Regions from separate parts of the Homo sapiens genome. Here region 2 is linked to region 1. Evidence: fine-mapped expression QTL. Tissue or cell type: lung. Region 1 holds a variant in brackets; the other region holds the start of a gene. All regions are shown on one strand. Distances are between the middles of the regions.

Evidence for each region. PIP is the estimated chance that this variant, and not a neighbour inherited with it, causes the effect.
Region 2: IFIH1 starts here. The variant in region 1 is fine-mapped to the expression of IFIH1 in lung (TOPMed, PIP above 0.99).

What each region holds. Positions count from the first base shown.
Region 1 is chr2:162,154,513-162,159,780 of GRCh38, reverse strand. All of the region lies in intron 1 of LOC101929532 (a long non-coding RNA gene), which reads right to left. Among named protein-coding and RNA genes, the nearest start is that of GCG, 4.9 kb to the right of the region's middle. The variant A/G (reference allele first, on the strand shown) is at 2,306.
Region 2 is chr2:162,316,581-162,321,580 of GRCh38, reverse strand. It overlaps IFIH1 (interferon induced with helicase C domain 1), which reads left to right and starts at 2,897. Exons shown (of 16, transcript NM_022168.4): 1 at 2,897-3,726. The coding sequence starts at 3,274. It also overlaps a transcript of GCA not described here. RefSeq lists enhancers at 1,665-2,864, 2,433-2,982 and a silencer at 3,013-3,102.

The DNA of each region.
Region 1 (5,268 bases):
GAAAGCAGTTGGCAGTTCCTCAAAAAGTTAAACATAGAGTTAGCATATAAGCCAGCGATTCTACTCCTAGGTATTTACCCAAGAGAATTAAAAACATAGTCCAGACAAAAATTTGTGCATGAATGTTCCCAGCAGCATTATTCATAATGGCCCCAAAGTGGAAACCACCCAGATGTCCATTACTGATAGATGGGTAAACTAGATGTGGTAAATAGCATACAATGGAATCATTTCAACCGTAAAAAGAATGAAGTACTGATTCCTTCTACAACGTGGATGAACCTTGAGAAGATTATGCTAAATAAAAGACATTAGACAAAAAAGATTATATGTTGAGTGATTCCATTTATATAAAATACACAGAACAGGCAAATGTGTATACAGAGAAAGTAGATCAGTAGTCAAGAGCTCGGAAAGAGGGCAAGGGGGAGTGACTGCTGATGAGTATGGGGTTTCTATTATGGGTGATGAAAAAGTTCTGAAATTAGATAACGGTAATGGTGACACAGCATTCTGAACATACTAAAAACTACTGAATCATACATTTTTTAAAAACTAAGCCCAAAAATACTTCCATCATCAACTGTTTAGCATTTAGATGTCTTGCTATCTTAGCTATCTGGAAGTTCTGAATAGATTTAGACAGCAGTCAAAGCTGATTTGAGGAGATTTTGCAAGTCCTCCCAGGACTACTTTGCAAAGCCTTACTCTAGAAAGGTTACAAAGTAGTGGGGTCCTGTATTCGGACCCAGATATGGCTTTAAGCAACTTGGTTGCCTGTTCTAAGCCCCTGTCTTGTTATTTGTAAAATGAAGGCAAAAATATTGAACTCGTTATGTATTTTGAGTATTAGAGAATAATATACTCAGCTTTGCCTTTAGTACATATTCAGGAAATGGTAGTTACTTCTATTCTTAGGCGGCTTGATCCTCATTTCTGAATTGTAAAAAATACTGGCTCTCATATTATGATTTTTAAATCTTTGCCTACAATTAAATCTGTATATGAATTCCAGGTGAGATATCAAAAAAGTAACGAACTAATCAGTAGTTGAAGCTATGTGCTAACCAATGGAAGGAATGACTATTACACTTTACCCTGGGTGTTTGGTCAAATGTGTCTCTGAATTTATAATTTTTATTTGATTCTTTTCATCAATGTCAACTGTCTTCAACAATACATTTATTAGAACAAGTGTCCATAAAAACATTAGAGGCAAATTGATGCTTAATAAATCAAATACATTTTTAAGATATTATTTGCATCACCCTTTTTTCCGCTATGAGTTTTGCCCATTATTTGTGGGGAAAGAATGCAAACAAACTGGGAGGCCGAGGCGGGCAGATGATGAGGTCAGGAGATCGAGACAATCCTTGCTAACACGATGAAACCCCGCCTCTACTAAAAATACAAAAAATTTAGCCTGGCTTGGTGGCTGGCGCCTGTAGTCCCAGCTACTCGGGAGGCTGAGGCAGGAGAATGGCGCGAACTCGGGAGGCGGAGCTTGCAGTGAGCCGAGATCACGCCACTGCACTCCAGCCTGGGCGACAGAACAAGACTCCGTCTCAAAAATAAATAAATAAATAAATAAATAAATAAATAAGCAAACAAAGGTGTAAAAGCCATGATCTTCGACCTCTAGAGTTTTGCTGATAAGTATTTATGGAGGAGAATGCTGGCAATCATGGACTAGACATATAAGAAAAAAAGGGAGACTCTATCATTCTTCAGCCTTAGAAAAGACTTATGGTTAGTCGACGGTGCTTTATGAGGAGAAAAGAATTTTTATTAAGATGGAAGTGAAAAGTCAGTTTTTACATCTTCTGACAACATGGCAACAAAGAAATGATTTACCTTTCAGTAAGAGCCAGGACTAGAACGCAGATATGAAATACTTCTGGCCATAGAAATGTTTCTGACCGCAGAAATAAATTATTTTGGTCATTTATTGCAAAATGGAAATGTAGAAATTTATTCTCCAGGTTTGAAAAATAAAATAGCCAAACAATGAATTGTAATACATTAAATAAATCTCTGCTTTAAAATAGGGTAATAGCCTAGATGGCTTTATGAATTATCCTCCCTTCTATGGTTATATCATTTCAATTTCACCAGAACACTGGGCATATCTTGATAATACATCTGATAAAATACAAATTGGCAATACTGAGTAAGTTTCAGGCAGGGGGTAAGTCTTACTACAAGGTATAATGAACAAGAAAAAGTATTTATAACTCAGGTTTGCATTCTCTGCATTTTCTTAGTATACAGACTCCAAATTTTAAATTTTCTAATGGCTGAAGTT[A/G]CTTCCTTTTACAGAAGACTTTAAAAAATTGCAATGTTTTAATTGGTTCACATTAAAGACTCTTAGAAGCTTGAAGAAAAAAAGTCTTTCCAGATGAGCAAGAGGTTGGATAAATGTAATGACATATGGTTTGTTTTTTATAGCTACAATATGCGAAAAATAGTAGCATAACACATGTATTCAATGATATATATGTATTTATACATATAAATATATATTCTGCTTGTAAATTATGAGATAAGATTCTTTTGTACAAATATGATTTTGTTTTCTTTCTCTTTCTTGTTCCCTTTAGGAATAAAAATAACAACTGAAACTTAGAACAGTTTTAAACATCTCATTATACCAGGGATCTTGCAAAAGATAAAATCAACGAATGCAAAGCCATGATGCCACACAGTCCCCTGCACAGACTTGTGAGCGGGCTGTCTGCAGGGTCTCGGAGCCTCAGGGCAGGAAGACTGTCCGTTGATCTTATTACTGAATCTTCCCCCCAACCCCAGCAGGCTTCCTCAGAATCCTTCCAGATTGATGGGTCATGAACTGATTTTTAAATATCTCTCAGGAAGGGTATTTCTCACATCCTCTGGCAAACTCAGAACTTCCCCTGGAAGTTCTTCTTTTATTACCGCTGGATCCCTGAGCCCATTAAGTCACTCACAGAGATGTGAAGGACATCTGATTATTACATTGTATGTATTCAATTTTTAACTTTTCAAATGCTCTCGTTAAGTGGCTCTTCAGAGTTAAAACTAATCAATAAAAACTTTTTCCTCAAATGCTATACATAATTTTTCTTTGATCTTTTGAAGGTTCACACCTATTTTCAGAAGACCCTTGTTATGGACCCTTGGATGGTATCTTAATACGCTGTGCTCTTCCTAGGTTAGAGTATTAAATACTGTCCAAGAATAAAAAACAAACCTCAAGCATATCAGGAAAGCTTGACTGGTCACTACTGCAGTTTTATCAAACAGAGCTAGGCAAATCCTAGGGATGGGTATTGAATAACATTGAGAAGAAGGGAGCAGTGATTTTGATTCCATTACCTCTGAGTGGTAGCTTCCTCTCTCTGCCTTCATTGCAGTTGTTTTTCCGTTACCTTGGCCCGGCCTAGGCTACTGTTTTCCATCCAGGCTCTGTTGCCACCATGTGTCTATGAAGTTCACTTATTTTACTTAGCTAATCCTTACTCACTGAAAAGTCTAACTCTTTGGCTTCCAAAGTGATAAATGACCAATTAGTCCTAATGACCAATCCCCACGATCATTCTATTATGGCTTTAACTTTTTAATATGGGAAATTTCAAACATAAATAAAGTAAGCAGAATTGCACAATGAACCCTGTTTATCCATCAGCCAGCTTCAACAATTATCAGTATTTTGCCATGGTTGTGTCATCTGTACCTCCACCCACACCTCAGACTTCTTTTTTTTTTTTGTAACTATTCTTTTTTTTCCTTTTAGGTAAAATTTACATAAATTAAAAATCACGAATCTTAGCTGTACTATTTTGATAATCGGATAAACCTGGTAACACATACCCTTATCATAATATAGAATATTTCCATCTCCCCAGAAAGTTCCCTCTTAGGCAATCCTCTCCCATCCTCTTCCAAGAAACAACCACAGTTCTGAGATTTTTAACTTCAATTTTGCCTGTTTTTGAACTTCTATAAATGGATTCATACAGTATATAGTTGTTCATGTCCATCTTCTTTTATGCAGCATAATGTCTGCAAAATTTTTCCACATTGCTGCCTGAGTCAGCTGTTGCTTAATTTTTGTTGCTGTATGAATTCCGTATCACAAATTGTTTTCTTTCTCTTGTTGATGGATACTTCAGTTAGTTTTTAAGTATTGTAAATAAAGCTTATCTGAACACTTTTTTACAAGTCATTTTGTGGATATATGTTTTTATTTCTCTTGGATAAAATACCCAGGAGTGGATTGCTAGGTCAAAGGGTAATTGTACATTTAGCTCTAAAGTTTTACCTTTTTCCAAAGTAGTTGTACTGTCACTCCTTTTTAAATTACATTTTTTGGTTTGTTTTGAATGGGTAATTCTATCAAATGGTCAAACAATCCAAACCACATAGCAGGTATATAAAAGAAGTATTCTTTGCATCCTGTCCCTGTCCACATGCACCCCACTTATCCACACTGCCTCCTACAGGTAAGCACTTTCATCAGCTTCTTGTCTATTTTAATTTTTTGACGCAATTATGAAAAATAAACACGTATTTCTGCCCCTCTCCCTTCTAAAACAAAAGGTAGCCTACTACATACCCATTCTGCACTTTCTTGTTTTCAACTAACAACATAACTTGGAGTCTTTCCCTACTGGTAAATAGACAGCGTCTTCATTTTTTTTTTTTTTCTAAACAGTGCTCTATTGCTGGCCCCTTGGATTAGTTCCCACCTGTTACTCTTCTACTCAACCTTGTACCTACATCATTACATATCTACATAGCAATATATGTGGGATAAATGTTCAGAATAGTGCTTTAGCCTTACTGGACCAAGAACTATAGGTATTAGTCACTTCGATAAGTATTACCAAACCACCTTTCAAAGGAGTTAATATTTTGTACTCCCATCAGCAACGCCTGAGAGTTCTCCCTACCCATAGACTTCCCATCGCAGCGCACTGTGAACCTGGATCTTTGCCATTCTCAACTATTCCTAAGTATTCCGAGCAGCTACAGAAAATAAACACACAATAACCCCACAATGCATGGTTTTGTGTAAATTTTTAAGAATTTTGAGGTGGTAAAAGCATTAAGGCAAGCATGAGGTCCTGCATGCAGCTTCATGCAGCTGCACAGGTTGTAAATCTGTGGAAATTGTCCTTAGGACTAAACATCATAAAGAAATCATATATGTCACTAGTCATAGACATACAGGGCTACCACTTTCCTTGCCTCACATCTAAATCACTGAATAACTGTATTGATGGGAAT
Region 2 (5,000 bases), 160 kb before region 1:
CACTGCCAGGTTAAGAGCATCTAACACTTTAAATTACACAAAGCAGGCTCATTATTGATACAAATGAGCAAACAAGTAAAGGAACAGAACAACAATTCCAGGGTTTCTCACTAAACTAAAATTATTGTCATTTTCTTTGAAAAAGACATTATTGCTATGCATGGTCGTTAAATTGTAGTGGCAGCTCATATTGTTACTACTTCTTAAAAACTCAAATGAAAAGTTGCATAACAATGGGAAAATACATAGTTCAGCAGGATCTCCTGCCTCAAAAGAGAAAGGAAAAAGAAACTTACATTTGGGAACTGGTGAAAAGGATTAAAATGAAACCTAGTAGAAGAAACTTGACAGAGGAAAACAATTAATTACTCAAGTGAAAAACAGAAAATAAACTAAATCATGATGCAAAAAATATAGATGAAAAAAGGATACATTGTGAGAGATTGTGTCTTGGCTTTTGTTTCCTTAACCTCCTTTCTCCAAAAAGGGTCCCATCAAGACTATGGGAGATTCCTAAAAAAGAAGTCCCTTCCACCCACACCTAATCCTCATCACTCAGACCTCATCCAGCAGAGAGACTCCTACTTGTGAGAAAATATGAATTGTTATTGTTGGGTATTATGTGATGCTAATAGGGTTAGAGGAGGATGACTATTTGGGAAATCAACCTGTGAAACTGTAATATACATTATTATGTAGATTTACTATGGTCTTCAGGGCATTTATCCTCACCTGCACATTGCATATTTTTTAGTCATTACTTACCATCTATCTTCCCACTCCCATTAGAATGTGAACTCCATAAAAGTAGGAGCTTTGTTAATTTTATTAACTGCACCTAGATCAGTGCTGGTCATGTAATAGATACTTAATAAACATATTTTAAATGACTAGATGATACAATGAATGATATAATTTGAATGCCAAATATTTAAATATCTTTGGTTTAAATGTTTATTATTTGAGAACAGGTCAAATACCAAACATTTGATCCTTTCTCTTCCAGAGCAACAATTAAGTGGTATGAAGAAAATAACATTAACTGGTTCCCCATATTCAGTCAGCAACCCCTTCTCATTCCCCCATGTTTGAAACCAAGAAACAGAAGGATAAGTGCCAGGAAAAAGAATGTTTTTTGGTTTGTTAGTTTGTGCTTTAACATGTTGAATAAAACCCACTGGCAGCTGGGGGATAGGAGTATGTTTTTGCAACAGCCTTAAAAGATATTTTCATAGACCCAATACTTAAAATTAATAATTTGAGTGCTTTTGTAGAAACATCTAATTGGATTATCCTCTATCTGGGTACAAGGTCATCTCCCAAAATTAAGTGAAAAAGGAGTAGGGTTCTGTGAAGAAACAGAAAAGAACAGTATAAATCAGGCCTACCTGCAAGCCCAAGGTTTCATTTACTTCAACTTTCAGTGTATTTAACATTATGCCAGCTGCTATGGTCAACTCAAATACAACTCCCAGGAGAGATGTCATCAAGAGCCCACCAGTTGTGAGTAGTGTACTAGTTACTATGTAAATATATCCCTTCTTCAAGCAGCTTACAATCCTTCAGGGGTAGAAAAAGCCTTGCTACATAAGATAATTAGAGAATAAAATAAGACATGTTACCATAAAGTGCTCATTTGGATATTTTGTATGCCCCTAGTAAACACTCACCAAGACTCTGTACTTCTATTATCCTGTTCAAAGCACTATCAGGTTTTCCTGGCCTACACAGACTTTATTGAATGTACTTTGCTAACAGATTATTTTTCCTAAATATGTCTCTTTGATAACCTAAATGATCTCTCCATCCTTTATATAATTCTGGACCATGAGATTCTAGTTATGGTGCGTATGTGCCTACCACCCACAGTCACATGTGGCTACAGAATGCCTTCAGAATGAGTAGTAACCTTAAGGACTCACATTTATGTGGCTTCTGTACCAAAATGAAGCTGCCATTTTTCAGTGTGAATATGTTTTTTTTCTCTCATGACATAGACAAATGTTGATGTTTACTACAAGTTGGTACATTAGTTGCTAATTAAGTTCCTAGCTGCTCCAGCCAAAACTTGCTGTATTGAATCCAAGAAAAGAATGGCAGCTATATCAAAAATAAGTTGTTGGGGGATTTTTTTGTTTTGTTTTATTAAAGGAAAGTTGTATATTAAAGAATATAGGGAACTTACAAGCTGGGATCTAGGAAACTTTAAGTCTTGGCTTCCTTCTAAGCTGAGTTGGTGGTTCAAGTCCATCCACATCTGTTACCAGGTCCTGGTCAAAGCTGCATAAATACCAGCAATCTAAATATGAGGCAGTAAAGTTAACTGTTTATTGTTACTCACTTTTTCGAACCCACCTCCAAATTCCCAGGGAAACAAGTTAGTGTTTGGGAACCCACAGGAGGTCAGGTTTATTTTAGGAAGGACTTCCTCCTGTCTTCTCCACATCTCTGCAAAGATGTCTTCTGAGCTTCATCTCTCACCTGTCCCTCGCAGTCTCACCACCCTCAGCCAGGCCTGCCTACATTCACCAGCCGAGGGTAACTCCCTGTTCACGTCCGGGTCTGTGGCAGTTTCTGTTCACTTCCCCTTTGGAAAGTCCCAAATCACATGCTTTTATGCCCTGCACATTTTGGCCTACAAAGGACCTTATTGTTAAGGCAGAACCTGCTGGGAAAACAAAATATCCGCCGGAGGAGCTTTGCTAGAGCGTTGGTCTTGGTGTCAGAGAGAATTCGCTTTCCTTTTCTGTTTCCCGCGGTGTCCTTAACCAAAGGCCTCCTCTCTTCACCCGCCCCGACCAAAAGGTGGCGTCTCCCTGAGGAAACTCCCTCCCCGCCAGGCAGATTACGTTTACAAAGTCCTGAGAAGAGAATCGAAACAGAAACCAAAGTCAGGCAAACTCTGTAAGAACTGCCTGACAGAAAGCTGGACTCAAAGCTCCTACCCGAGTGTGCAGCAGGATCGCCCCGGTCCGGGACCCCAGGCGCACACCGCAGAGTCCAAAGTGCCGCGCCTGCCGGCCGCACCTGCCTGCCGCGGCCCCGCGCGCCGCCCCGCTGCCCACCTGCCCGCCTGCCCACCTGCCCAGGTGCGAGTGCAGCCCCGCGCGCCGGCCTGAGAGCCCTGTGGACAACCTCGTCATTGTCAGGCACAGAGCGGTAGACCCTGCTTCTCTAAGTGGGCAGCGGACAGCGGCACGCACATTTCACCTGTCCCGCAGACAACAGCACCATCTGCTTGGGAGAACCCTCTCCCTTCTCTGAGAAAGAAAGATGTCGAATGGGTATTCCACAGACGAGAATTTCCGCTATCTCATCTCGTGCTTCAGGGCCAGGGTGAAAATGTACATCCAGGTGGAGCCTGTGCTGGACTACCTGACCTTTCTGCCTGCAGAGGTGAAGGAGCAGATTCAGAGGACAGTCGCCACCTCCGGGAACATGCAGGCAGTTGAACTGCTGCTGAGCACCTTGGAGAAGGGAGTCTGGCACCTTGGTTGGACTCGGGAATTCGTGGAGGCCCTCCGGAGAACCGGCAGCCCTCTGGCCGCCCGCTACATGAACCCTGAGCTCACGGACTTGCCCTCTCCATCGTTTGAGAACGCTCATGATGAATATCTCCAACTGCTGAACCTCCTTCAGCCCACTCTGGTGGACAAGCTTCTAGTTAGAGACGTCTTGGATAAGTGCATGGAGGAGGAACTGTTGACAATTGAAGACAGAAACCGGGTAGGTGTCTGTTCAGATGGAGCTAGCCTTTTAGGCAGATTTTGCAAAGCAGGCTTCCTTGTGCGTTTGCCCCTTTCCAAATGTGCTTGACCTCTTTGGGCAAATCTAGTTTCTTCCTTTGAGAAGACAACATCTAGGCACTTTAAGACAATTTTAAAAATTTAAACACAAAAGAACTACTTTTCTAATGTTTTCACTGAAGTAAAAAGGAGTTAACTCTAGAATCGTAATGTGTATTAACAGGTAACTTTTATTGAACACTTACTATGTGCAGTTGGTATCATTTTCAAAATGTATTACTACAGTTCATGTTCAGAGTAACCCACTGAGGCTCCTAATGTTATTAACTCCATTTTACAGATGAGAAACCTGAGGCAGGTTAAATAATTTGTCCAAGGTCTCCCAGGAAAAACAGTGGCAGAGCTAAGAATTTAGCTTGTGATAGTGTTGAATGTTTTTCTTATTTAATGTAGTTCCATGGAGCAGGGGTTAGTAAACTACGGCCCATGGGCTAAATCAAGCCTGCTACTGTTTTTTTCAGGCCCACAGGCTAAGAATGGTCTTCAGATTTTTCAATTTTTAATTTTCAGTGTTCATAAAGTTTTATTGGAACACAGTCATGCTCGTTTGTTTACATATTGCTTGTGGCTGCTTTTCTACTCCAAAGGCAATTGGATGGAGACTGTGTGCCCTTAAAGCCAAAAATATTTATTATCTGGCATTTTAGAGAAAAAGTTTTCCAATCTTTGCCCTACATTACACTTTGTGCCATTTAGTCTTAGCCCAAATGGGTAAATTGCAATCACACACACACACACACACACACACACACACACACCCTTTTTCTTTAATCAAAGTTTCAACATTCTTTGAGAATCAAAATTTAGAAACAATTCATTGAAAGAATGTGTTGCTAGTTTCAGTTTTTCATGTTAGTGAAGAAACTCATTTTTCTTAAGGTAGCATTTTGACAGGGCGAATTTTACTGATGACTTTACATTGAATGTGATATGAATTATTTTTTGATAAGTGAAGATGTACTGTGATGTGTATAAATGCTGACCTGTTTGAATGTGACTTATTCAGGCTCGTAAGTCAAAAGTCTTGTTTTGGAAGACATGTAGACAAATAAAGCCATGACTAAAAGTCAAAGGCTTTGTCTACACCACTCTATGATTTTCACATGGTTTTTTTCTCTCTCTCTCTTTTGGGTCATCCATTGTTTGTATATTCATACAAACTTCTGGGCATTTGATTGATTTGCTATAGCCTAT